Linked DNA regions of Homo sapiens. The protein of the gene in region 1 interacts with the protein of each later gene in a biochemical or structural test. Each region holds a gene or a part of one and is shown in the gene's direction. Other genes may lie near its edges.

Region 1 (7,032 bases):
GTGGCGTATTCTGACCCCCTTCAGAAACCTCTGTTGAGGTCGATGCTGCCTTCCCTGCCAAGGTCAGTGAGGCTTGCACATGAATGGGCTGGGCAGCACGGGGGTCAGGGACGGGGGGGTTCTGTCTCCTCACGGTTTGGTCGGCAGCTGACTTGGAGGAACTGAAATCTTCATGCAGGGATGAGTGTGGCTCAGAACCAGACCTGGCAGAGAGGCTGCTGAGATGACTAGTTCTGATGGGATGTGGTCAGTCTGAGCTGAAAGAGCTGTCAGGCTGGGAGCTGCCTATCCTTCATCTGCTCAGCTGCAGGTTTCTTCTGTGACACAGGAGAATGTTGTAGAAAGAGTAAGACGAAATGGTTGGGAAGGAAATTTGGTTCTTGAGATACTGGTCCTGACTCCTGAAGAACCAGGAGTGAAGCCCGTCTGGTGATTGAAGGCAGGGAGCAGGTGGGCCTGGGCGCTGCGGGTCTGCCCTGGAGCTCTGGAACCGGAGGCTTCTGCTCTGGGAGGTGAGGGTTGTTTCCCCCAGGTCCTCCCGGGCAGAGAAGCTGGGGAATCCAGGTTCTTGTCTTGCATCTTCTCCTCACCTTTAACGTCCCTCTGAAACCACAGAGCAAGTCTCACACCTCTTCTTTTCGTCCGTTTTTGTTGGGGACATTAGGACTGGGCGTTCATCAACACCAACATCTTTGCCAGGACCAAGATAGACCCCAGCGCCTTGGTGCAGAAGCTGGAGCTGGACGTGAGGAGTGTCACTTCCGTCAGGAGAGGTGAGGCAGGCTCGAGTGCACGGAGCGTCCCTTCCATCAGGAGAGGTGAGGCAGGCTCGACGGGTTACCATGCTGATACCCAGCAGGTCTGGGATTGTTCCCTCAGGCACCCGAGGTCTCAGCAGCTTTCCAGCTAACCTGTACCTGACAATGTCCTTGAGCAAGGGATGCCCCTGGCTGTTTCTTGGGGCGATTCCCCAGAGTAGATTACAGCTGTGGTTTTGCCCCTGGGCTGCATCATGTCTCCGCAGCTCTGCAAGAACTGCTCTGCGTCCTGGCAGCCACGCTGAAGCCACAGGAACTTGGGCTTTGGTGACCAACAGGGTTTGAACTGTTTTCTCCGTGTGTGCTGATTCTTTCGGTCTGTCTGTATGTTTGGGGCAGTTTTGATCCTTTTCTTAAACAAGTGCTTTATGTGTTGCAGAGGTTAGCTGCTTATCATTTTGTACAAATAACTCTTGAGGGTTTAGATCCTGAAGCCGAAGCAGGGTCCTCTCAGTTTCATCAGATCCATGCGCAGCCCTTCCCGTCTCCTGGTTGTGCTCCTTGCAGCCCTGCAGCACACACGTCAGCCTGGCCAGTGAGAGGGTCTGGGAACTCCCACTCACTCCAGTGTCCGGAGCTTAGCAGGGAACGCCGTCCCCCTGCACCTCCTACTGAGTCTGAGGTGTTTTAGAGAGTTCCCGGCCACCATGGTCAATGCTGGGAGTGTTGACTTTCTGGCTGGAGGATGGTGAGCAGTGTCACTTCCCAGGGATAAATCCAGGAAAAAGCTTCCTTCACTCATCTAAGGGAGTCGGTGAGGAGCACAAGGAATACTTTTTACATCTTGACAGCCTTGGGAAGTCATAGGTTGGGGAGGGAGAGGGCCTGGCTGTGGGGGCAGAGCTCAGGGCACCAGTGTGACAGTGAAGACTGCATGTGGCTTCACAGTCGGCAGAGCTGGGAGCGCCAGGACAGGGCAGGAGCCGGGTCTGGGGCCTGTAGATGGCCCGTTAAGATCGTGGGCTCTGGGCCTCTGCCCCTCACCGCCTGGTAGCCTCTGGCTGGACACTTGATCGCTCTGGGCCTGGGCTTTGCATCTGTCAAAGGAGGTAACAGTATTTATCTCCTAAGTTCTGGCAGTTTTGAGTTTGAGATGAGGTAGTTGGTGTGAAACGTTTAAAACAGTGCAGTGAAGGCTGTGGAGGCGCCCGCTCTGCATCTGTTGAACGAGGCTGGTCTGGTGGGAAGGCTGGGGACGAGTGGGTTTTGCAGCTGCCCAGAGGTGGGCCAGCCCTAATTCCTTGGGCACAAGTCATGTGATCACGGGTGCTCTGTGACCCTTAGCTCCATTGTCCACAAAGCGGCGACAGACATAGCTCATAGATGCTAAGGGCCTCACTGTGCCTCTAGAAAGATCCAGGTACATTTAACCAGTGCAGGTTTCCTGCTCCTTCTCTCCAAGGAGGACCTGGTGAGGTGACCAGGCCAGGTAACTCCAGAGAGAAGCTGTGCCTTCCAGCCAGGAACGCTTGATGTGGGTGGTCCGCCCGAGCTGTGTCCCTGGTTGCTGACAAGGCCCTTAAGGCTGTCCCCAAGGGGATGGGAGTCGTGGGTCTCAGTGACCTGGCTCTGGCCTGAGCTTCTCAGAGCTCTTTCACACAGCAGCCTCTTTCCTCTGCCTTTTCTTGGCCCTCTCCCTTCAAGCCCCTGTGGCTCATCTGGTCCCCAAGGTCACCTGCTGCACTGACTGTCACGTCCCCTCTTCCCCTCCTAATTTAGGGAGACGTCACGCTCACGACCCGTCTTGCCTACCAGGGAAACTCCTCTTTAGCAACATCTGGCCTCGCAGCGTTCTTGGGCTGAGGTCGTGCCCAGCAGCCCTGTGGCCTCTCCTTTGAGCCATGCTGGATCTTTGTTTTTGTTTGTTTGTTTTTTGTTTGTTTGTTTGTTTGGAGACAGAGTCTTGCTCTGTCGCCAGGGTGGAGTGCAGTGGCTTGATCTTGGCTCACTGCAACCTCCGCCTCCTGGGTTCAAGTGATTCCCCTGCCTCAGCCTCCTGAGTAGCGGGGACGGGACAACAGGCACATGCCACCACGCCCAGCTAACGCCACCACGCCCGGCTAATTTTTGTATTTTTAGTAGAGATGGGGTTTCACCCCGTTGGCCGGGATGGTCTCGATCTCTTGACCTCAGAGATCTGCCTGTCTTGGCCTCTCAAAGTGCTGGGATTACAGGTGTGAGCCACCACGCCCGGCCTGGTCTTTGTTTTTCGTAAGCTCAAACCTCATTAATTTAGAGTAACTGGTGGGAGAGGGTAGAAGCTTGAACTTTACAATGTCAAAGATTGATTTCAAATTTCAGAACCATGTTATCAGAGTAGAGCATAGAAGTGTTTTCTTGAAATAATTGAACAATAAGTTGAAAAAATTTGAAGATTCTATTGTTTGTGAGTCTGTTGGGTAATTAATTTTTTTCTTAATTCACATACCCTTATTTGTGCATAAAAATCTTAAAGCTTGTGCTGACGGGACTGTAGCGTGGCCCGTTCTGGCGCTCCCCAGCCCTGAGCTCGTGCTGACAGTAGCGTGGCCCGTTCTGGCGCTTCCTGCTTGTGTGCAGGTGTTTCCCATAGCCCGCCTTGAGGGGCACGAGGATGGGAATTATTTGAGCCGTGCGGCAGGGTCAGGGTTTTGGGTGTTGGGGAGGAGCCTTGGCCTGGGGAGGCACTTAGTGCTTCTGGCCAGGAGCCGGTGGCTTTGTGCACTGCCCATGGCTGTGATTTCTGCCTTGGTGCCCCAGGGGGATTCAGGAGAAGGTGCTCCAAAATGGTGCCTTGGAGGTTGTCCCTGAGGTGTGTTCCAGGAGGCTGTCCTGTGGGAGGGGCGTTCTGAGCTCATCGCCGCGGGCCCCCATTACAGCCCTCCTGGAGCGAGGCCTCTGGCCAGCCGTCTCTGGCTGTGGCTCTCAGCCCAGGGTTCTGGTGCATATTCCTTCCACCGCCCTGCTGTGGGTTTTCTGCACTGAAGAGCCCCGGGCTGGATGAAGGGGACCATGGGACCTCACAGAGGGCTCAGACGGAGGGACAGGCCTCCACTTCCCCTGCCCTGGGATGTGAAGCACCAGCTTGGCAGGGTGGCAGGGCCCACAGACCCTCATGGGTGGGACCTGCAGACCCTTAGAGGAGTAGCCCCACAGGCGGAGGGGCTTGCCCTGGTCTGGGGGCCCCAGCCCCTTTTCTTCAGGCCTCCGAGGTATCCAGGCGCCTCAGTGGGGTCCTTTGCATCTTGGCTGCTCCTCACCATGTTCCTCCCTCTCTCCAGGAACAGTTCTGTTTTTTTGGTGTGGTCTCCTCAGCTCCTGATTGGCTGGTGCCCTGCGTCCCTACCCCCACCCCACCCCGGGTTTGTGCTGGGGCCTGAGTGCCCATGTCATGCAGATACTGCATCCTGTGACTTGGCCGCCACCCTTCAATGACCCGCCTGGCTATGGAGGTGAGGTGGCGGCCTGTGGGTGCCTGTCTGCCTGGCTTAGTGCAACACCGCCTTCCCAAGATGTGTCTCATCGTCCGTGCCCTGCCTGAGTCAGGAATAGCACTGCATGCTGCGTCTCTGGCCAAGGAGCTGGGTGGCCCAGGGGAGGGGTCTAGGCTGTGGCCCATCACCTGGTGGACACCCGTGTGCCCATCTGCACCCCTCCTCCCCCACTCTAGCCCTGGGAAGTGGTGGGGCTTGTTAGTCCCTGTGACTGACAAGTTCGTGGCATCGTTCCTATCCTGTGACTGACAAGTTCATGGCATCGTTCCTATCCTGTGACTGACAAGTTCATGGCATCGTTCCTATGTTTTTTTTCAAGCCCTTCGGATCCCAGCTCGCCAGGAAGCCACATCTGACCCCCTGTTCCCTTCCTGTGCCCTGGAGCCTGCCTTACCCTTACGGGCATCCTGGGAGGGACCCTCTGAGCTCTGCAGCCTCCTGCTACGGGAGGAGGAGGGCATGGGTGCAGGGCTGAGGCTGGCCTAGAGTCCCCTCCCCGCCCCAGCTCTCTAAGACCCCCTGCACCTCCCCAGCAGGACTCAGCTTTGCCTGTGGGCCGGGTTGTGCATGCAGGGGCTTTGCGGCAGCCTGTGGACCCCATGTCGGGGCTACAGCTCCTCCATGTCCGCTCTGGGGGTGGCGAGGGACCTGTGGCAGAGCCGGGGTGAGCACCCGTCTCCTGAGCCTCCCCCAACGCAGTGCCACCTGCTGTGCGTGCTGTGTGGCCAGCTCTAGCTGGCTTGTGCAATACCAGAGCCTGGCAGCCGGCCGGGTGTCCAGTGGTGGCTGATCCTCCAGCCTTGGGCACGGCTCCAATCCTTGGCATCGGACATCCGGGGAGCTGGTCATGCAGCATCGGGCGATCGGGCATCCGGGGAGGTGGTCGTGGAGCATCGGGCGGTCCGGGAATCTGGTCGTGGAGCATCGGGCGGTCCGGGGAGCTGGTCGTGAAGCATCGGGCGGTCCGGGGAGCTGGTCGTGGAGCATCGGGCGGTCCGGGGAGCTGGTCGTGGAGCATCGGGCGTCCGGGGAGCTGGTCGTGGAGCATCGGGCGTCCGGGGAGCTGGTCATGCAGCATCGGGCGGTCCGGGGAGCTGGTCGTGGAGCACCGGGCGTCTGGGGAGCTGGTCATGGAGCACGCTTAGAATTGGATTTCTAGTTCTGTGTTCCTTCATACCAGAAAACGAGCCCACCTGTTTTCAGACAGGCACTTGGGACTCAAGCTCAGAGACACAGGCAGGGTGGGGCAAGGCCTGGTATGGACTCAGAGCCGGGTGGGGCTGGGGGCCCCTGGAGCAGAGGATGTTGGGAGGCCTGTCACCATTGCTGGAGAGGGAGCTCACAGCATGGTGGACGGCTTGGGGGCGGTGGGGGCATGAGAGGCGCCGGTGGTGGTACAGGATTTTGGGGGTGTTGCTTTTCTGGCCAGATACCTGTGGCCGGTGGCACCTTTGCTTGAGTTTTGTCCAGGCCCACTGGGCTCATTTCACCTACTTGGCCTGGCAGGCTGAGCTCAGCTCATGCTACTGGCCTGGATCTCATGCCTCCAAGGGAGACTGGAGTCAGGCGTGGAGCGGTGAAGTGTGTGTGTGAGCAAGTGTGGGGTCCGGCCATTGCAGGCCAGCGCCAAGCCACCCTCAGCCCCCGCCTTGGCTTCCTCCCAGAGCTTGTTGATGCCCAAGGTCCAGAGGGGGCCAAGGTGGCAGGGCCTGAGTGTGTGCACACCCGGCCGGGCTCTGACAGCACCTGGGCTCAGCCCCAACCCCCCTTTGAGATTGGAGTGGGCGTTGGAAGCAGGGAGAGGCCAGGCAGCAGGAGCAGGCATCTCTGAGTCTGCAAGGGTAAGAGTGCAGAGAGGCCAGGGTCCCGAGCCCCGACTTGGCTGCTGCTTGCTCCCGCTCCTGCTGGCTCTGTGGAGCATGCAGCCCTGGCTCCCCCTCGCACGGTTTGTGGCCTTGCCCGGGGGCTGCTCCTGATCAGGGAGTGGATTGTGGGCCCTGGGCCCTGGGCCCGGCTGTCAGGAGTGTCGGGCCTGGCAGTCACACCGATGTGGGGTGGATCCTAGGGATGCAGCCCAGGCGGCCCTGCACCATAGCCTCCTCCAGAGGAACCCAGCACCCTCGGCCGGGTGGACACAGGGACCACACTGCTGTCCGGGTCCCCAAAGCGCGGCCCCAGCTCCGCCTACCCCCCAGAACCCTCTGTGCAGCAGCAGCAGGCCAGAGCGCACCATGGAGCCAGGCTCTGAAGCCACAGAGGCCTACTCTTAGACGCCGGGCACAGGGCACCCACCGCCGCCATTGCTGCTCCGGCAGCCACTCCTGCCGCTTCTGCCTGCGCCTTCCGGCTGTGTACGACCTGCTGCTGCTGTCAGTGGAACACGTCTGCGTCTGCAGGCGTGTTGGACTGGGTGACGAGGCCACCAGGCTGTGGTGCAAGGACATCCCAAGCTCCTGCACCCAGCCCTTGGGCAGGGCTGGCTCTCCCGGTCAGCACAGAGCGCTGCCCAGGTGATTGTACCTGCTTAGACCCCACTCCACCCCCAGGCACCTGCGGTGGAGGGACCTGCGGTGGAGGGCGCGACCTTGGCTTCCTGGCCGTCCCTCTGCCCTGGTGATCTGGCCAGCAGAGGGCAGCAGAGCTGTGTCCTTGTCAGGTCAGCCCAGGTGTGGGACAGTCCCGGGATAGAGACGCAGGCTCTCCCTCCTGCCTTGCACAGCGGAGACTTGGGAAGTCCCAGC
Region 2 (7,032 bases), on another chromosome or scaffold:
AACATTTTAGGCATTGTATGAGAGGAAATTTCCAGTTCCAAAGCCAATTGATTACAATCGTCATGCAGTGGTCATGGAACTCATAAATGGTTATCCACTGTAAGTATTCATTATTCTTAAAGCCATGAATCCTGATAAATGAATTTAAGTTTCAGGGTTTTTAATAAAATTTTTTTTAGTTAATGAAATATTGCCTCTGGGAGGTTAAAATTTATTTAAAGGAATAGACTCAAAGACAAATTAAAAACCCAGTTTCATTCTGACAATATGAACTTTGTAATCTCTGTGATTCATTCATTCATTCAATATTAAGAGACTGTTAGGTGCCAGGAACTTTTAATCTCAGCAGTGAACAAAACAAAGTCCCTGCCCTCATGGAATTTACATTCTGATGGAAGGAGATGTGCAATAAATAACTAAAGGAAATGTATATCAATTGTTAGTAAGTACTATGGATAAAAAAAAGCAGAGTAAGGGAGATAGGAAGTACTAACGGGACAGGAGACTACTGTTTTATGTAGGGTGGTCAAGAAAAGTCTCACTAATAAGGTGAAACCTCATCAAATTTTGATTCAGATTAGCAGCTATTGGAGTGGGAGTATTTTGAGCAGAGAAGAGATGTGATCTCATCAATCAGTGATCTCAGTGTTTTCAGAGGGTCACTCTGCTTGCTGAATTAATAGACTCTGGGGAGACAAAGAATTAGGAAGACAAGTTAAGAGGCTATTACAATAATCTAGGCAAGAAATGGTTGTAATTCTGATTACAGTGATAGTTGTGAAGGTGATGAAAAGTGGTCAGATTCTGAATGTGTTCTGCAGGTTGAACCAACATGATTTGAGATTGGATATGGATGTGAAGGAAGGGATGAGTCAATGGTGACACCAAGGTTTTTCCCCTGAGTAGCAAATTAACTGGAAGGAGAAATCTACCATGTATAGAAACAGGAAAGCTACAGGAACAGCATTTTGGAGTTGGAGGGTGGGACAGAATCAGAGATTCCATTTTGGACATGCTAAGTTTGAGATGCCTGGGAGTTAGAGAAGTCTACATTAAAATCAGTGTATATGTGGTATTTAAACCATTAACCTAGATGAGATCACCAAGAATGAGTCTAAATAAGAGAAAATAAAAGGTCATAGGATTGACCTTTGAGGAACTCCAGAATTTAGAGGTCAAGGAAAAAGATGAAGTACAAATAGAAAAGACTAAGAAGGTATGATCTGTGAGGAAGGAAGAACACCTGGAGAGAATGGTGTCCCAAGAGTTAAGTGAAGAAAATGTTCAAAGAGGTCAACTGACAGACCACATATGATGAGGACTAAGAATTGACCTTTGGATTTAGCAACATTGAAGTCATTGTAGTCTCAACAAGGGTGATCTTGGAAGCACTTTGGCCTCCCAAAGTGCTAGGATTACAGGGGTGAGCCATTGCGCCTGGCCCGTACATGCTATTATTGATTCTGGATGTGGGTGTGTTTGTTTAGAATATAATCATTTTTTCATAATTTTTCAATTTTGTGATACTATTATTTAGGTCACTCACTGGTTTGAAGTGGCTAGTGTTAACGTTATAAAAAGCCTGTTTGAAATGGTATGAGAGAGTAGGAGGAAACAAATTGGAAAAGCACATGTAGACAAGTTTGGCTGTAAAGATCAAAGAAAGGTAGTAGTAGAAAAGAGATACAGAATTGAAGCAGTGTGGCTATTTTTTTAATAGATGGGAGATATTATATCTGTGTGCTGATGGGAATGAGAAGAAAGCTGCTGGGGATACACAGCATGGAAATAATATATATGTTCACATGCATACATACTTTCGTTAAAACCGTAAATGAACACAAGTAACCTATTTTCATGCTTAAAATACTTTCAGATGTCAGATACACCATGTTGAAGATCCTGCATCAGTATATGATGAAGCTATGGAACTAATTGTCAAACTTGCAAATCATGGGCTGATTCATGGAGATTTTAATGAATTTAATCTCATTTTGGATGAAAGTGACCATATCACCATGATTGATTTTCCACAGATGGTTTCAACTTCTCATCCCAATGCTGAGTGGTACGTACTTGCTATTTTTTTATTTTTATTTTATTTTATTTTTTTGGAGACGGAGTTTTGCTTGTTGCCCAAGCTGGAGTGCAATGGCGCGATCTCGGCTCACTGCAACTTCCACCTCCCGGGTTCAAGCAATGCTCCTGCCTCAGCCTCCCGAGGAGCTGGGATAACAGACATGTGCCACCACACCTGGCTAATTTTTTGTATTTTTTTTTTTAGTAGAGATGGGGTTTCTCCATGTTGGTCAGGCTGGTCTTGAACTCCTGACCTCAGGTGATCCACCCGCCTCGGCCTCCCAAAGTGCTGGGATTACAGGGGTGAGCCATTGCGCCCGGCCCTTACATGCTATTATTGATTCTGGATGTGGGTGTGTTTGTTTAGAATATAATCATTTTTTCATAATTTTTCAATTTTGTGATACTATTATTTAGGTCAGTCACTGGTTTGAAGTGGCTAGTGTTAACGTTATAAAAATTTGGTTTTTTATTAAAGTATAACTACTAGAGTTTTCCCCATAAGAATTTGAATTTCTCTGTTGTAAATTGACAGACGTTCAAAAGTCAAATTTTCTTAGCCATGGAACCCTTTGTTCAAACAGACTTTTAGATGGAAGACCAATTGTTAAAACAGGTAAAAGTAGGGAGTGTAGTGGGGAACTCTAGAACCACTTTTGTCTTTCCCTTTTTCTTGCTGTTCCATGATTGCCTCCAAGAGAGATTCACCAAGTATAACTCAGTAATCTCGATGATCTGAATAAAAGTTGTGGTTTTGGACTGGACTCAGTTGTCAAACCAGTGATAATTACCTCTTGTCACTTTTAGCTTTATTTATTAGAAAAAAAATCACATAAAACTTTATCTCTGACACAGTGCAGAATCATGATATACTGCGATAATCATATTCTTCACATTACTTATTTAAACCAAGCCAGCCAAGTCATGAAACAGGACCTTATCCTTTATTTGCTTGAGGTTTATGATTCAATTGAGTGTAACTAAGGATTTTTTTTTCTTTCTGTTCCAAGCTTTATGAGAAACTTTTTTCCTAAACTAACAACTAGTATCACTTATATAATAGAGTATATTAATTCTTCCAGAGATTGAGCTTGAAGTAGTTTTGTTAAGTGAAGCGTCTCTTCATCCTGGTTTCCAGTAGAAAATGTCTATACTTATGCTACAGAAAGAAATGTCATTTGAAAATAAATTTTTAAAACGTTTTCAACAAAATAATACTAAAAGATTAATGCCTGGCACTGGGGTGGTCAGTACTCTTTGGATGATGACTAATCATGATTTTTATTAATAAGGAGTAACATAGTCACACAGTAAAGGAACATCTAGGAGCCTCCAGAGTGTGACAGATTATGACATTCTAGGTTTAGGCTGCATCGTTCTATGGAGAGACATTGTGATTTAATTTCAATTTTTATGAACCAGTTCTGGGGCCAAGGAGCTGTGCTAATTGCTAGAGATTGAGATATAAATAACCCCTATATATGCTTTAGAAAATGTTACTGTCTCGTAGGGAGATGTAAACATATATAAAATAGTCTTTTTAAAATGTATTAGTATTTTTCCCAGAGTACCCTGTGAGCAAAGAGGAGAGGCATTATCTTCCTATTTCCAAACTTCATCTTTCTCAAAGAGAGTCAATTGCACATTATCCTGTCCTTAATTCTCCCTTGTCTGGAAATCTTCTAGAGAATTGAATCCATTTTTGCTGCTTTGTGGTGGCCCAAAAAGGCAGCCTGATATTCAGATATTGTTCTACTTTTGGTCCAGATTAACATGTCCTCAGATTATTTTTATAGGCTGTAGCATTATTTATCCCTTTGGGTGTTATTGCAAATCGGCTAATGGATAACAAAGATACATAAACATAATTCAGTAGTCTCCAAACTTAACTGTTTAATATTAATATCTTTTTATCGTCAGATCTTTCAGTTGGCTAGGGGTTCTAGTGAGTGTTGCTGATAAGAAGCATAGCCAGACTCAGGACGAACAGAATAAGTGGAAACCTATCCCCAAACCATAGGCCCATTATCTTATTTCCTGGGGTTCACATTCATCTTTCCCTAGTGTATCTAACTATATACCAGTAACTATGACAAAACCTTGACTTTCCTAACCGTAGGAACTGCATGGCATTGACAGCTTATATCCTTGAGATTTCCTTGGATTTTAGTTTTTCAAACACACTGGTTAACTCATTTGTATCTTTTTTCTTTTGTGTAACATCTTTTATCTCCTTGTGTAAGGAGGAGCAATACCATTAACCAATAAGTATATTGTCATTGGCTAATAAGGAAAAAGAGGAGCAATAAAGACTATATCATAAATGATTCTTGCTTTTGCAGGTATTTTGACAGAGATGTTAAATGCATTAAAGATTTCTTTATGAAACGTTTCAGCTACGAAAGTGAGCTTTTTCCAACTTTTAAGGATATCAGGTTTGTACTCCCCATTGCTTTACATAATAGAACAGTTTAAATATCTGGTCTGTGTATTTCTAAAAATTAACATTTTCATCTAAAAAACTTTCCAAATTTTGACACGTAATCACTGTTAGATGTCATTGCTCTGTAGTACATAACTGAAACTTAAAAACTTGAAAATACCTGCATTTGGTCCATTAAGGCACTGTTACTGAATTTTAGGAAGCGGACATATCTAGATTCTTATAAATTCAAGAACTTTTATTCTATTTTGGATGCTATTTGAGTAACTCATTCATAAGGAATAACACCAAACATTCATTGAAATTTGTGTTTTTCCTTTATCAAGGACCAGGAGGTATCTTTAATTGATTCTCAAAACATAACTATCATGTGCATTCTCAAAGCTCAGTTTTCTCATATTTATTTTATACACTTAAGATATTTTCTGATCTGGGATGAGTCACATAATCTGAAGGAAATCCTTAGCCCCCTTTGAAAGTTAATTTACAAAGTTAATAAACATAAGCTGAGGTTTTTATAACCTTTTTATTTATATTGTTGCTTTTCAGTTATTTTATTCTTAAAATGACAGCCAGCATATACCTTTCATATTTGTTTACCTGTGTCATTTAAATATTACATTTTAGGGAAGGAAAATTTATTTTTAACATATAAGCTATTAAACTCACTTGAATCATAATTTATCAGAGTAGTAGATATTTGCTCCTCTTAGATAAACATTTTTTCTCTCTTTCTATGCTTGACGCCTTTTTTTTCTAGGAGAGAAGACACTCTTGATGTGGAGGTTTCTGCCAGTGGCTACACAAAGGAAATGCAGGCAGATGATGAACTGCTTCATCCATTAGGTCCAGATGATAAAAATATTGAAACAAAAGAGGGATCTGAATTCTCATTTTCAGATGGAGAAGTGGCAGAAAAAGCAGAGGTTTACGGGTCAGAAAATGAAAGTGAACGGAACTGTCTAGAAGAATCAGAGGGCTGCTATTGCAGATCATCTGGAGACCCTGAACAAATAAAGGAAGACAGTTTATCAGAAGAGAGTGCTGATGCACGGAGTTTTGAAATGACTGAATTCAATCAAGCTTTAGAAGAAATAAAAGGGCAGGTTGTTGAAAACAACTCTGTAACTGAATTTTCTGAGGAGAAAAACAGAACTGAAAATTACAACAGGCAAGATGGTCAGAGAGTTCAAGGAGGAGTCCCTGCTGGCTCTGACGAGTATGAAGATGAATGCCCTCATCTAATTGCCTTGTCGTCATTAAATAGAGAATTCAGGCCTTTCAGGTATAGACTTCTGTCGATTGCTTTTTAACTTTAGTCTTGAGACTGATACTTTGTTAGATTCTAGTAAAAGAATGTTTTTTTCAAATGATGTGACAAAATTGTATTCTGCCACCTTGATGTATAAAATGAAAGCCAAATAATTTTTTGTTGTTAAAAACTCAAAATAGCTTCCTTTTCAATTGACCTGATTCTAGGCAGCCTATTGACTAAATTTCAAGTAATTCTGCCTTAAAATACAAACTGATGGCTGGGCACAGTGGCTCGCTCATGCCTGTAATCTCAGCACTTCTGGGAGGCCAAGGCAGGCAAATCACCTGAGGTCAGGAGTTTGAGACCAGCCAGGCCAACATGGCAAAACCCTGTCTCTACTAAAAATATAAAAATTAACCGGGCATGGTGGCCTGTGCTTGTAATCCCAGCTACTTGGGAGACTGAGGCAGGAGAATCACTTGAACCTGGGAGGCAGAGGTTGCAGTAAGCCAAAGATCGTACCACTGCACTCCAGCCTGGGTGACGAGCAAAAAACTCCGTCTCAAAAATATATATATATATACAAACTGATGATTTTAAAATTATTGCAGGTCTCTGGATACATTGATCAGGTTTTAGATGGATGAGTTATTCCTCATATATTTTCCTAATTACACATCTGATGTGTGTTTGAGTTATGTAAAGGCATGTAAATATTAAAACATGCAATAAATGTACTTTCTATATGAAACATCTGCAGTGAATTTTCTCTAGTACCTTGAGCCTTCTATCCTTTGTTCATGTGTAGTTAAAATTATCTAATGATATTATGTTTTCTTTTAATAATTTTTTTTTGTAAATATTAATCAGGCTCAGCTTAGATTAGGAAAAGTTCTAAAACTTAATTTTTGGATTTGGGATTGCTTATTCAGAATCAAATTGTAGTTAAATGAAATATTGGTTTTATTTATTTCAAAATAGTAATATGACAATTAAAATTAGTTCAGCAATACATTTATTAAACATTTTTCAGTACATGTTTGGGCTTATATCTTAAGCCTACCTTTATCTTTAAAGTTTTATTCCTGAAGCAAAACATGAGAATTTTGTTCCTTTTTCATATAGCTGTGTATCTGTGTCACAGGGCTACTGCCATTTAAATAATAAACTTGGAAAATTAAATCAGAAGCTTAAAAGGAAAAGAGGGGTGACAGAGGCTCAGGATTTTGAGTAAGTGATTGTATTAGACTGGATT
Region 3 (5,148 bases), on another chromosome or scaffold:
CCCAACCCTCACTTTGCACTTTCTCCTTTCAGATTCTACCTCTGCTTGTTTTCTGGGCCTTCGACCTTTATACCAGAGGTGAGGGACACTGGGTTTGCAGGCAGGCCTGTGTCTTTTGACTTCCAGGCAGTGGGGCTCAGCCTGCAGAGCCTGCTGGGAGAACACTGGTGGGGAAGCAGGGCCCAGCCCCAGAGTGCAGACCCTGGAGTGCTCACATCCTCTGGAATCTGGAGGCAGAGACCTCTGCTCTGCAGGTCCCAGAAAGGCGTGTCAGTTCCTTCTCGTGGGACTGGACCTCGTCCCTGTCGGAAGGGTCAGGCCTGGGTGCCTGGGCTTCTGGAGTGGGGCAGATGGTTTGAGAACTCTCCAGGGTGACCTGAGTGCACTTTGGTTCCTGCAGGGGCTGAGTGAAAATCAGGATGAAGTTGAACCCAGGGAGTCTGTGTTCACCAATGAGAGGTAAAGCAACTGCTGAAGCCTGCCCCGGCTGCAGCGGGGGCTGCCACATTTGTTAGACATGGACTTTCTCTCTGCCCTCACCCAAGCCTCTCAGGTCACATGCAGCAGGGACACCAAGGTGACGGTAGAAACATCAGGTCCCATTTGGACTGTGCCTGTTTGGGGCTAGGGGTTTGGGGTCCTGGATGTCTGGGTGCAGCCATGCAGCCTGGACTCCCTTTGTGAGCCCACACATGCCCCTTCCCCTTGCCACGCCTGGCAGGCTGTCTCCTTCTTTTCTGATGCTGCCCTCCACCTGCATCTGGGACCCTCTCCCTTGGGTGCTGTGGCTCTCCCTTCCTTCCTGCATCCTCATCTTGACTCTCCTGGGTCACTGCTGTCGGCACACAGACATGCTGCACAATTTCTCCTTTTCTAGAAAAGTTCCTTCCTTAACCCCATAACAACAACTAACCACCCCGTTGTTGCTTCCCTTCATAGCAGAACTCAGACCTGCCTCTTCTTCCCCTCCCACCATTCTCTCAATCCACTTCTCAGGCTGACAATTCTGTCTCATCACAAATTGTTCTTGTCAACTCCACCACCAATTTCCATCAAGCCACATCTGGTCACTTGTGACTTTTTTTCATGTCCTTAATGTGCCTGCTCGGTAGGGTCAAAGACAGCAGTGCGCTCCCTCCTTGACGCTTCCTTCACTTGGCCTTCCACCCACCATCGTGGTTTCCTCAGCCTTCCTGGCTGCTCCTCACTCCACTGCTGCTTCCTCTTCGAGTGCTGGGCCCAGCCTGGATTGGATCCCTTCTCTACCTGTGGTGCTGTAAATGCCAGCCGGAAGGTCCTAATTCCCAAATGTGTATCTTCAGTCTCTTGCCACCTGGGGTTTCCCAATGCCCCCTCAGTGTCTATACCTGGAGTTTCCATGGGTAGTCTCTCTCTGTTACCCAGGCTAGAGTGCAGTGGTGGAATCTTAGCTCACTGCAGCCTCGAACTCCTGGGCTCAAATGATCCTCCTGCCTCAGCCTCCCAAGTAGCTGAGACTACAGGTGCATGCCACCATGCCTGGTTAATTTTTAAAGTTTTTGGTAGAGATGAGGTCTTGCCATGTTGTTCAGGCTGATCTTGAACTCCTGGCCTCAAGCAATCCCCCTGTCTCGGCCTCCCAAAGTTCTGGGATGACTGATGTGAGCCACCATGCCTGGCCATCCTCCATTCTTTTTTTTTTTTGAGATGGAGTCTCACTCTTTCCCCCCAGGCTGGAGTGCGGTGGCTTGATCTCGGCTCACTGCAACCTCTGCCTCCCAGGTTCCAGCGATTCTCTTGCGTCAGCCTCCCGAGTAGCTGGGATTGCAGGCGCCCGCCCAACTAATTTTTTGTGTTTTTAGTAGAGACAGGGTTTCACCATGTTGGCCAGGCTGTTCTCAAACTCCTGACCTCGTGATTCGCCCGCCTCGGCCTCCCAAAGTGCTGGGATTACAGGTGTGAGCCACTGCGCCTGGCCTCATCCTCCATTCTTTACCATTCTTGATCATTCCTGTCTTTCCCTACATTTCACATCTTGTCAGCCTGTCATTGAGCCCTGCTGTCCGTCCCTCAGTGTGTATCCCCGTGCTGACCCTCCCTGCTTCCAACGAGCCTAATCCAGCACTGCCCCTAGCCTGGATTGCTGAACAGCTGCCTGTGTTGTCTCCTTGCCTTTGCAGTCTTTGCCTCTTTCAGATTATTTTCTGCATAGCAGCAAGACTGGTCTTTTTCTTTTTTTCTAAAATGTAAGTTGTATCTTGTCATTGCTCTTTTAGTGCCTTCATTGCAGTTGTGCTCCCCGCTCATGTTGATTTTCCTTAACACCCTTCACTGCTCTAAGTCATACACATACCAGTTGACTTGGTTATTATTTGTATCTCCAGCTAGAGTGAAAACTTGGTGAGGACTGGTATTATATCCCTGACATTAAAAATAGTGTCTTGTTAGTAAAAAGTGCTCAGTATTTTTCTGAATGAATAATTGATTATAAGGTAGTGAAGAGGGAGGTTATATCTGAGGTCCAGTTGACATGAGGGAAAGGTCTTAAGACCTTTAAGACATTTAAGAGGAAAAATGAGCCCAAAATGCATGTGTTTGGAAGGCCCACAGCTGGGCACAGCCATGCATGTTCCTCACGTCCACCATAGGTTTATGCTGCCTGACCCCTTGGGTCTTTGCTCATTTCCCTTAGTTTCCCTAGTCCATTCCCCATGGGGAGCTGGGACCCTTCTGGATGACCTCTTCTCTGAGGCGCCCATCTCGTGCTCCCAGGGAGCACTCCCATCTCCTCCCTCCCAGGGGAAGTACACATTGCCTTATCTCCATGTGTCTTAGGATCCTTCTTGTCCTTACACTGGTGTCTTCAAACGACATGTCCTAAAAGTAAATGTGGGTAAGTTGAATGACCTGAGCATCCATTCCTCAGCTATTCAAAAAGTAGGGGTAGTGCCACCTATCTTGGCAGTGTGTTGAGGGTGCCCAGCACGTACCTTGCCATCCCTCGTTCTGTAGGCTCTCACTTCCAGTTCCTCAGATGAGGTACAGGGCAGGGAGGAGCTTCTCCCGTTACTGTCATCTCAGTCTAACCACATTCAGGACACTTGTTTATTTTAAATAAACAGGTGAATTAAGAAAAAGTTTTTTAAGTCTTTACCTAATCAGTCTCCAGGCTCTCTTTTTGGCCTGTTCCTCCCTTCCTCCTGGCCGCCTCCCTCCCATGCCTCTCATGTGCCTCCTGCAGGGCTGGGCCCCCACTTCTCTTGGGACCTGTGCTTTGGGGCACTCCCCGTCTTCACCTCCTTCCTTTAGCTCCATTGATGACTTTCCCCCTTGCTGCTTCTCCCATGGCTCACCTCTTGCCCCCTGGTTCGCCACTCTGCCCTCACTTTGTACTCTTTGTAGAATCTTGAGATGACTCCTCCTGTGTCCCCAGCCCTGCTCTGCAGCTGCTCCTGCTTTGTGCTGGCTCATCAGGCTCAGGCATCCGAATGGCAGCTCCTTGGCTTGCCCTGTCTCTGGTTTCTACGGATGGTCACAGGGGTCTTCGGGGTTACCCCGCCCTCTTTCCTTCTTCCCTCATACCCCTCAGTCCTTCCTTTTCAGACCCTCCTTTCCATCCCTGTCTTCCTGCCCCCAAGCTGTGGGACCCTAAGCTCCTGCTGTGAACTGTCGACTGTGCTCTTGAAGTCTAGGTGATGATGTGTCATTGCATTGGTAGAAAGCGGCCTGCTTACTGCTGCTTAGCTGCTTCCCGAAGAGGGAACAGACTGCTCGCTGGTGTTTAGGTCTCCATGCCCGGCCCAGCTCTCTCCTCCTCTGCCCACCCAACAACCTCTGTGGCCCGGATGGATGTTATCAGGAAGGAGGGTGTCCAGAGCGGGGAATTGTGTTATAGGGAAGGTGGAGCATTTGAGAGAAGGGGCATCCGAGGCCACCAGACTCGGAGGTAAGCTTGCCATGGATTCACATGGGGGCCAGTCGGGCAGCCCCATCCATCAGCTGTCCATCAGCTCATAGCTGTGTCTCCGCCACAGGTTCCCATTAAGGATGTCGAGGCGGGGAATGGTGAGGAAGAGTCGGGCATGGGTGCTGGAGAAGAAGGAGCGGCACAGGCGCCAGGGCAGGTGAGTGCCAGCCTGGGAGCTGGCAGGGTGGGTGGGGGGTGGATGACTATTGCCATGAAGAGCTTCCCTTTATTTGAAGGGTCCAGGGCTGCTTTGATCTTTTTTTTCTGAGACTGTCCTATTCCTTTTCTGCACAGGGAAGTCAGACCTGACACCCAGTACACCGGCCGCAAGCGCAAGCCCCGCTTCTAAGTCACCACGCGGTTCTGGAAAGGCACTTGCCTCTGCACTTTTCTATATTGTTCAGCTGACAAAGTAGTATTTTAGAAAAGTTCTAAAGTTATAAAAATGTTTTCTGCAGTAAAAAAAAAGTTCTCTGGGCCGGGCGTGGTGGCTCACACCTGTAATCCCAGCACCTTGGGAGGCTGAGGTGGGAGGATCATTTGAGGCCAGGAGTTTGAGACCTGCCTGGGCAACATAATGAAACTTCCTTTCCAGGGAGGAAAAAAAAAAAAAAAAAAAGCTCTGAGAGCATCTTATTTTGTTTAAAGGCAAGAAATAAAATTTCCTTTTGTGGAGCTCTGGCATCTCCCAGCTCTGTGATTCTCACCAAACTCCAGTTCCTCCTGGTGGGCTACTGCTCGACTCCCCAGGCAGGAATCAGATTTAAAACACTTAGATGAAAGCATTCTTTCCATTTGCAAGGAACACAGAGTCCTTTAATTTAGGGCTTATATATAACTGTATCATAATCACACCAAGCAAAGTTGGGAAGAGGGCCCACATGAAATGTGTTCGTGGTGCCTGCTGGCCAGTCCGTTTTCCCTTCCTGTGAAGGCCTTGCCAGTCCAGCGGCCCCAGCTTGAACTGTGGCACTGAGCTGCACGGTCAGCTGCCTACCAGCCCAGTGCTTGGATGTCTTGGGCTGATCTCTTGTCCCGTCACTAGTGGTTGGAAAGGGAAGGTCCTGCTCTGGGGTAGTGTGGGACTGTCCAGCTGGCTGTGATAGGAGAGGAGGTGTAATGGTTGCTTGAGCCTTTTGGTCCATGTGGGAAGAGGGGCAAGATCCTGGGCATTGCAGTACAGAGCTGGATTAGGTGTTCAG
Region 4 (6,990 bases), on another chromosome or scaffold:
TTCAGATTGGGTGGCGGGCAGGGATAGAATATCCTTGTTAGTTATATAAAAATAAACTTTTTTTTGCTTTTTGCAGATTTGAAATTTAATTAAGCTATTAACTTCTTAATCATCACATCCTCCAACTCTGTTTTAACTCCCCCCTCCCCCTCCCCTTTTTTTTTAAGGAATAAAGGGATTCATTCCTCATTTTAACTGATGTTACAGTGAAGATGGGTTCTTGAACTCTTGGAAGCCTGGATGAGCCACCTAATCTGCAAGATAAAAACCAAAGACCAATGCGTATTGGGGAAAAGAATGCTTAGTACTGCAAGACTGTTGAATACCTGTTGAATATTCCTATTGAGGTTTTTTCCTAAACATACTTCAGTAACATCTTAGGACAATTCACTGGAGAAATGTTGATCCCTGGCTGGAATGTCATACCATTGACCCATTTGAAGAGTTAAAGCTGGATTTGACTGCTCTATTCTACCAGGAATATTGTTAGGGTAGCCTTTTACCAGTTTCTAAACAATTGTAATCATTTATTGACTCAGCAATTCCTCAGATAACAGGTCAAAAGATGTACAGATACATTCTGAAGTTTTCTTGCTATTAAAGGCACAAGAGTTTCCTTGTATTTTGACTGACAATGTAGCATGTTTCCATTTTAGTTTGTTAGTGATGGTGGTTTTCCCTTTGAAAGCCATTTGGTATATTCACCATAACAATTAGTTTAATATGATTACATAAGAAAACTATGATAAAACCCAGCAATTTTAGTAGTTGTGAAAATACGTTTTTTAAATCATGTTTAAGAAGAATTGCAAGACTTGAAACCAAATCCTGATGGGGGAATTCTGTTTAATCCTGTTTAATCTGTTTAATTTCTGTTTAATCCTTAGTTTCTTAACCTGCATAGCTTATCCTGTATTGTACTTTTTTTCTTTTTTAAACTCCCAAACAAGAAGCTTGAAACTTTTCCTGTATTTTAAAATTGAAATTTGGTCACAGGGTATAGTCAGATTTTTATTAAGGTTTGGTTTGACAACCTTTAAAAGAAAGGTTTACCTCGCTAATACTTCTTAATAACATGCATCAAATGATATTCCCTATGGTGAAGTATATTCTCAAAGTTATGTTATCTTTCATTTTTGGCATTTGGTGCTTATGGACTTAGTACCCAGGCAACAAAGATCTATTATGCACCTACTCTCTTGTATGTTCGCTATTATTTCCCAAAAAAAAAAAGGGGCATATATGCATAAGAAATAAATATTAGAATTATTTTGTTTCTCCCACAAAGCCCATGGGAGATGGCCCAACAAATGTTTAAAAAGTAAAAGAAGCTGGGCACGGTGGCTCCCACCTGTAACCCCCACACTTTGGGAGGCCATGGCGGGTGGATCACGAGGTCAGGAGTTTGAGACCAGCCTGGCCAACACAGTGAAACTGTGTCTCTACTATAAATACAAAAATTAGCCAGGCATGGTGGCAGGCACCTATAGTCCCAGCTACTCAGGAGGCTGAGGCAGGAGAATCGCTTGAACCCAGGAGGCAGAGGTTGCGGTGAGCCAAGATCATGCCACTGCCCTCCAGCCTGGGTGACAGAGCGAGACTGTCTCCAAAAAAAAAGAAAAAAGAACTAAAAGAAAAGGAGCAGTTTATGATTGAAGAAAACATGACCTGGGCTGAAGAAGTGAGGATTGATTGGAGTGGGCTAGAATGAGCTATAGTTTCTAGCTCATTTGTAAGGAGGTAGACAAAGGAGCATTGGTGCCTCAGAGTGGGTGTCTGGTGAGAGGAAAAACGGTGCTTAAGAGATTTTCAGGCTATTGCTGTGGGACAGGCATATTTTCTCCCTTTGCCTTTAGCTGTAGATAAAGTGTGGTTATGACCTGAGGCTTCTTGTATTCAAACTTGGCCTAGGGCCTATGTAGAGGCCCTAGGGTCTACTTGTGGTGGAGGAGGGAAGTATTTGTAGAATGTGTAGGCTTGAGAAGTAAATAAAGCCAAAAAAGCATCACTTGCTTACATTTTTAAATGAGTCACAAAACAATCTTTCTAATGCGGCCGGTAAAGAAGTTTTAAAGGTCTAAGGTTTCTCTACAGAAATTACATGCTTCTCAGGTCTTTGTTTAGTAAAATAATACAGATAATTATGCTTTGAATGCATTTATTATTAAAGCTAACCGTTTTAATTTGTGTCAGAAATAATTTGTGCCTATGGTAGGATTAAAATTGTATTCTTTAGTTAAAGCAAAGCAATCTGTTTTTCATTGATTTGATAAATATGTGAATGCCTAATATGTTCTGCATATGTAAAAATGCAGAAACATGCTCATTTGAATTACTAATAATTATTTTAGTATGCTGAGAGGCTTTGAATTCACTGTACCACTCCTTCCTAGAGTCATTCAAAACAGAAAAAATTAGTTTTAAGTATAGATTCATGTTTTTCTGTTTTAAAAAGTTGAGCTAATACTTTTCACAAGAGACGAAATAACATGAGCCACTATAATTATTGGCTCAGTTCCACCCAATTTCCATATTTTGGGTGTAATTTAAAATTTTTGACTTGGAATTTTAACTTTTTTTTTGTTTTGATTTTTTACCAGGTTTCTAAGCATGAATTGAGGAACAGAAGAAGCAGAGCAGATGATCGGAGCAGCATTTGTTTCTCCCCAAATCTAGAAATTTTAGTTCATATGTACACTAGCCAGTGGTTGTGGACAACCATTTACTTGGTGTAAAGAACTTAATTTCAGTATAAACTGACTCTGGGCAGCATTGGTGATGCTGTATCCTGAGTTGTAGCCTCTGTAATTGTGAATATTAACTGAGATAGTGAAACATGGTGTCCGGTTTTCTATTGCATTTTTTCAAGTGGAAAAGTTAACTAAATGGTTGACACACAAAAATTGGTGGAGAAATTGTGCATATGCCAATTTTTTGTTAAAACCTTTTGTTTTGAACTATACTGCTTTGAGATCTCATTTCAGAAGAACGGCATGAACAGTCTTCAGCCACAGTTGTGATGGTTGTTAAATGCTCACAATTGTGCATTCTTAGGGTTTTTCCATCCCTGGGGTTTGCAAGTTGTTCACTTAAAACATTCTTAAAATGGTTGGCTTCTTGTCTGCAAGCCAGCTGATATGGTAGCAACCAAAGATTCCAGTGTTTGAGCATATGAAAGACTCTGCCTGCTTAATTGTGCTAGAAATAACAGCATCTAAAGTGAAGACTTAAGAAAAACTTAGTGACTACTAGATTATCCTTAGGACTCTGCATTAACTCTATAATGTTCTTGGTATTAAAAAAAAAGCATATTTGTCACAGAAATTTAGTTAACATCTTACAACTGAACATGTATGTATGTTGCTTAGATAAATGTAATCACTGTAAACATCTATATGATCTGGGATTTTGTTTTTATTTTGAAATGGGAGCTTTTTTGTTTACAAGTTCATTAAAAACTAAAAACTGTTTCTGTAAGGAAATGAGATTTTTTTTAAACAACAAAAAATGCCTTGCTGACTCACTATTAAATAAAAATCTCCCCAATTTTTTGATAGACTACTTCAAGCCATTTGTTACATGGTATTCCTTTGCAAGTCAATTTAGGTTTCGTGTTATAACTTTTCCTCTTTTTTTAAGAAAAATGAAAAAAGTAATTCTTTTGTCTGAAGGGGAAAGGCATTCTTTCATTTTTTTCTTTTTTTTTTTTTTTTTTTATGACTTGCAGGCACAATATCTAGTACTGCAACTGCCAGAACTTGGTATTGTAGCTGCTGCCCGCTGACTAGCAGCTGGACTGATTTTGAATAAAAATGAAAGCATTAAAGGGTTTCCCTACAAAACATTTTTCTTTAAAATACTTTTGAAATGGCTATAAGCAGTTGACTTTCACCCTTGGAGAGCATCACACTGTGTGAGGTTCAGTGATTGTTGACCCTCCCCAGCCCCTCCTGCTTCTTTAAGTTATCTGTGTGCGTGCGCTTCCTCTCAATCTTCTTTGCACGCTCATTTCTTTTTCTCTGACCCATGAGAAAGGAAAACTTACTGATGATAATTTTTAAATAGTGTAATTTATTCATTTATAGCATGTCAGGATAAATTAAAAGAACATTTGTCTGGAAATGCTGCCGGGAGCCTATTGTGTAAATGTAGGTATTTTGTAAAATAACCTTGAAATTGTAAATTGACACGTGTTTGGTCAGATTGTGTCAAGTTTAATTTGTTTTGTTTTCTTTTTTCTTTTTTTTATTTGAAAACTACTTTAGCAATAATTAATTCCATGATTATCACATTCTGCCATTAAGGGATATTAGTACCGTAATACTGAAGAAATTTTATTAAGTCTGAACTTCTGGGGTAGGCAGCTTCTTTGTTTCTTTTCTATCCACCCTTGTCGGTTGAGGTATTTGTTTCTTGACTAATAAACCCTTTGATACTTTTAGCCAGAAATCAGTCTCATAAAGCTATTTTTGAGTATAGTTTGTGTAAAATAAAAATGTTTAGCTTTGGTAATAACTTCCAAGCTGAACTCCCTCTAGCAAGATATTTTTCAGTGCTTTTATTTACTATGCACTTAGACTATGCACTTTTTCTGAAATATTTTTGTAACACTTTTTTGTATTTTTGCCATTTGAAAAGGTTGTGGTGTAGTTGGTCTGTAATTAAGTTGCAGATTTAAAACTGCTGTTAGCTTTGTAAATCAAAATATAGGTGTTTTTTGTCCTGGTATATCGTCATTCCATCTGCAGCTGGAGCTGGAATCCCATTGATCTTCTAGCTACCATTCATTTTCTTCACTGTTCACAAAAGAAGAGTGTGAAATTCAGTGAATGCTGTTACTAATCCTGTTACGAGATGAATCTCATTTCACCAAAATTAAATTATGTTTTTCCGCTAAAATGATGATACAAGTTGAAGACACATCACTCTGAAATTGGAAGACCTCACCACTTAAGGCTCCACAGTGGCTTACTCAGCTGAACTCTAGGTTACTACTCTTTACTTTGTTCACCCATTGGGGGGTGCAGTTTTTTTAAAATGTTGGGAGATGGCCATTCTAACTACTGTTGAATGTCTCTGTTTTGGGAAGGTATAACAAGAAATAAAAAAGAATATATATGAAGGGAGAGACTGGTTATCTCCTCCCATATGGTTGTGCTTATCCTCTTATGGCTTACAAATGAATATTTGGAGGTTTGCTTTCACAATGATTTCCCATCAACAAATATTTTTAGTAGGATTTTTCCTGTTTCTGTTAGTCCTTGCAGTACTCATAAATGTTTTAAGCTGAGCATACTGTAATAGTCATAAGTTTAATTTCATTATAATAAAAATAATCAAACAAAAGGACTTTAGAACCCAAGACAATGAGCTAGTTTTCCCTAAAGTTTGCTGAACTATTAAGGAATATGTTCTTATAGCTTTTGACTAGAATGAGTCATGGGAATTCTAAGAAGGGATGGCCTAGACATTTTTAGCTCAGTTAAATTCAGCATTTAATGCAGGTGAGTTCCTGGGTCGTTTTCCAACTAGTCTGGAACAGTCTGGTTCTGACTCAAACTGGTATAAAGCATTATTTTAGGTTTTCTCTTTGCCAGTTTTTAAGCAGTTATAACCATGTAAATCAAGATGTGAGGACATCTATATGAAGTATAGTAAAGAAGTGGTGTCAGCAGATCAATATGTGTGTCCTGGGTGTGCTGCTCTCTTAAGTGAGACTTTGTGAGACTATACTTTAAATGCATTATTACCATTGCTTACATTTTGGGGGATTTTCTTCCTCCTCAAAACTTCCATTTCTATTGTAATATTCTTAATGACAATCTTTTTTTTTTTTTAGCAGTGTATGTTTGAAACAGCCAAAGATGGCGATGAACCAAGTGTAAATTGATCTAAGCAGCCCATGCAGTTTGTGTTGAATCAACAAACAGTGTATTGTTGAAGTGAAATTATTTTCTGAAATGACTTGTTAGACCAGTTTTGAGGACATACTCAAAAGTAGAGTAATAATGGCTCCTGGGATGGAGAAATATGAGATGAACCTGGAACATTCTATTATGGTGCCACAAAGGAAATCTAAAAAAAAAAAAAAAAAAAAAAGTGGTTGGCTAGGAGCAGTGGCACACGCCTGTGATTCCAGCACTTTGGGAGGCCGAAGTGGGCAGGAGTTCAAGACCAGCCTGGCCAACATAGTGAAACCCTGTCTCTACTAAAAATACAAAAATTAGCCGGGTGTGGTGGCGGGCGCCTGTAATCCCAGCTTTTCAAGAGGCTGAGGCAGAAGAATCGCTTGAACCCGGGAGATGGAGGTTGCAGTGAGCTGAGATCGTGCCACTGCACTCCAGCCTGGGCGTTGCAGTGAGACTCCGTCTCAACAACAACAAAAAGGTGGATACATGTCAAAAGGGCACAGGAGCCACTTGAAGGATTATACTTGCTAAATCTGTGTCAATTATCAAAATAAACTGGTAGCAACGTTACAACTCACTGAATAAGATACCATGATTCCATGTTGACTTAAAAATGGAGAGAAGAGAAAGCTCTAACTTGAATGTCAGCTAATTTAAGGTGAAAGGATTTTATGTGTTAGAAAAATCACCATTTTGCAAACTAGTTTTCAGAATCCTTAATATATGTCATCTCTTTTATTCCTCATAACAGTAATAAGAAACAGTTAACTGTTTCAGAAAAGAGTGGGGCTGCCCAAGGCAAGGCATGTTGGTAATTGGTAAGCTTTATAGAGCCAAGACCTCAACCTGATTTTCTTGCTTTCATGCAGTTAAGCCATGGTGCTCCTCTTGTTATATCACCCTTTTAAACCCAGAGATTGATAGTATTAGCCATCATTTGCTGAGTGTCATGCACTATTCTAAGTGCTTTACATGTATTTGCCTAATCAGCGCCCTGTGAAGTACATCCTGTCTCCATTTTGCATATAAGGATACCAAAGCACAGAGTTGGAGGGAAGATAGTTATATTCCCTTACTTTAT

What was found.
Region 2: the proteins of SLX9 (region 1) and RIOK2 are reported together in a solved structure, tested with the Homo sapiens proteins (one study listed by BioGRID).
Region 3: the proteins of SLX9 (region 1) and BUD23 are reported together in a solved structure, tested with the Homo sapiens proteins (one study listed by BioGRID).
Region 4: the proteins of SLX9 (region 1) and CSNK1A1 are reported together in a solved structure, tested with the Homo sapiens proteins (one study listed by BioGRID).

Annotation. Positions count from the first base shown.
Region 1 is NC_000021.9:44,943,020-44,950,051, forward strand, and holds part of SLX9 (ribosome biogenesis protein SLX9 homolog), read left to right. Parts: intron 1-664; coding exon 665-818; intron 819-7,032. UniProt on the Homo sapiens protein: May be involved in ribosome biogenesis.
Region 2 is NC_000005.10:97,166,242-97,173,273, reverse strand, and holds part of RIOK2 (serine/threonine-protein kinase RIO2), read left to right. Parts: intron 1-10; coding exon 11-99; intron 100-1,876; coding exon 1,877-2,068; intron 2,069-4,421; coding exon 4,422-4,514; intron 4,515-5,282; coding exon 5,283-5,807; coding exon of another isoform or gene 5,808-5,835; exon of another isoform or gene 5,836-6,528; intron 6,529-7,032. UniProt on the Homo sapiens protein: Serine/threonine-protein kinase involved in the final steps of cytoplasmic maturation of the 40S ribosomal subunit. Involved in export of the 40S pre-ribosome particles (pre-40S) from the nucleus to the cytoplasm.
Region 3 is NC_000007.14:73,693,592-73,698,739, forward strand, and holds the end of BUD23 (18S rRNA (guanine-N(7))-methyltransferase), read left to right. Parts: intron 1-32; coding exon 33-78; intron 79-400; coding exon 401-459; intron 460-3,874; coding exon of another isoform or gene 3,875-3,925; intron 3,926-4,013; coding exon 4,014-4,103; intron 4,104-4,240; coding exon 4,241-4,295; 3' UTR 4,296-4,621; downstream 4,622-5,148.
Region 4 is NC_000005.10:149,492,471-149,499,460, reverse strand, and holds the end of CSNK1A1 (casein kinase I isoform alpha), read left to right. Parts: intron 1-2,600; coding exon 2,601-2,608; 3' UTR 2,609-6,479; downstream 6,480-6,990.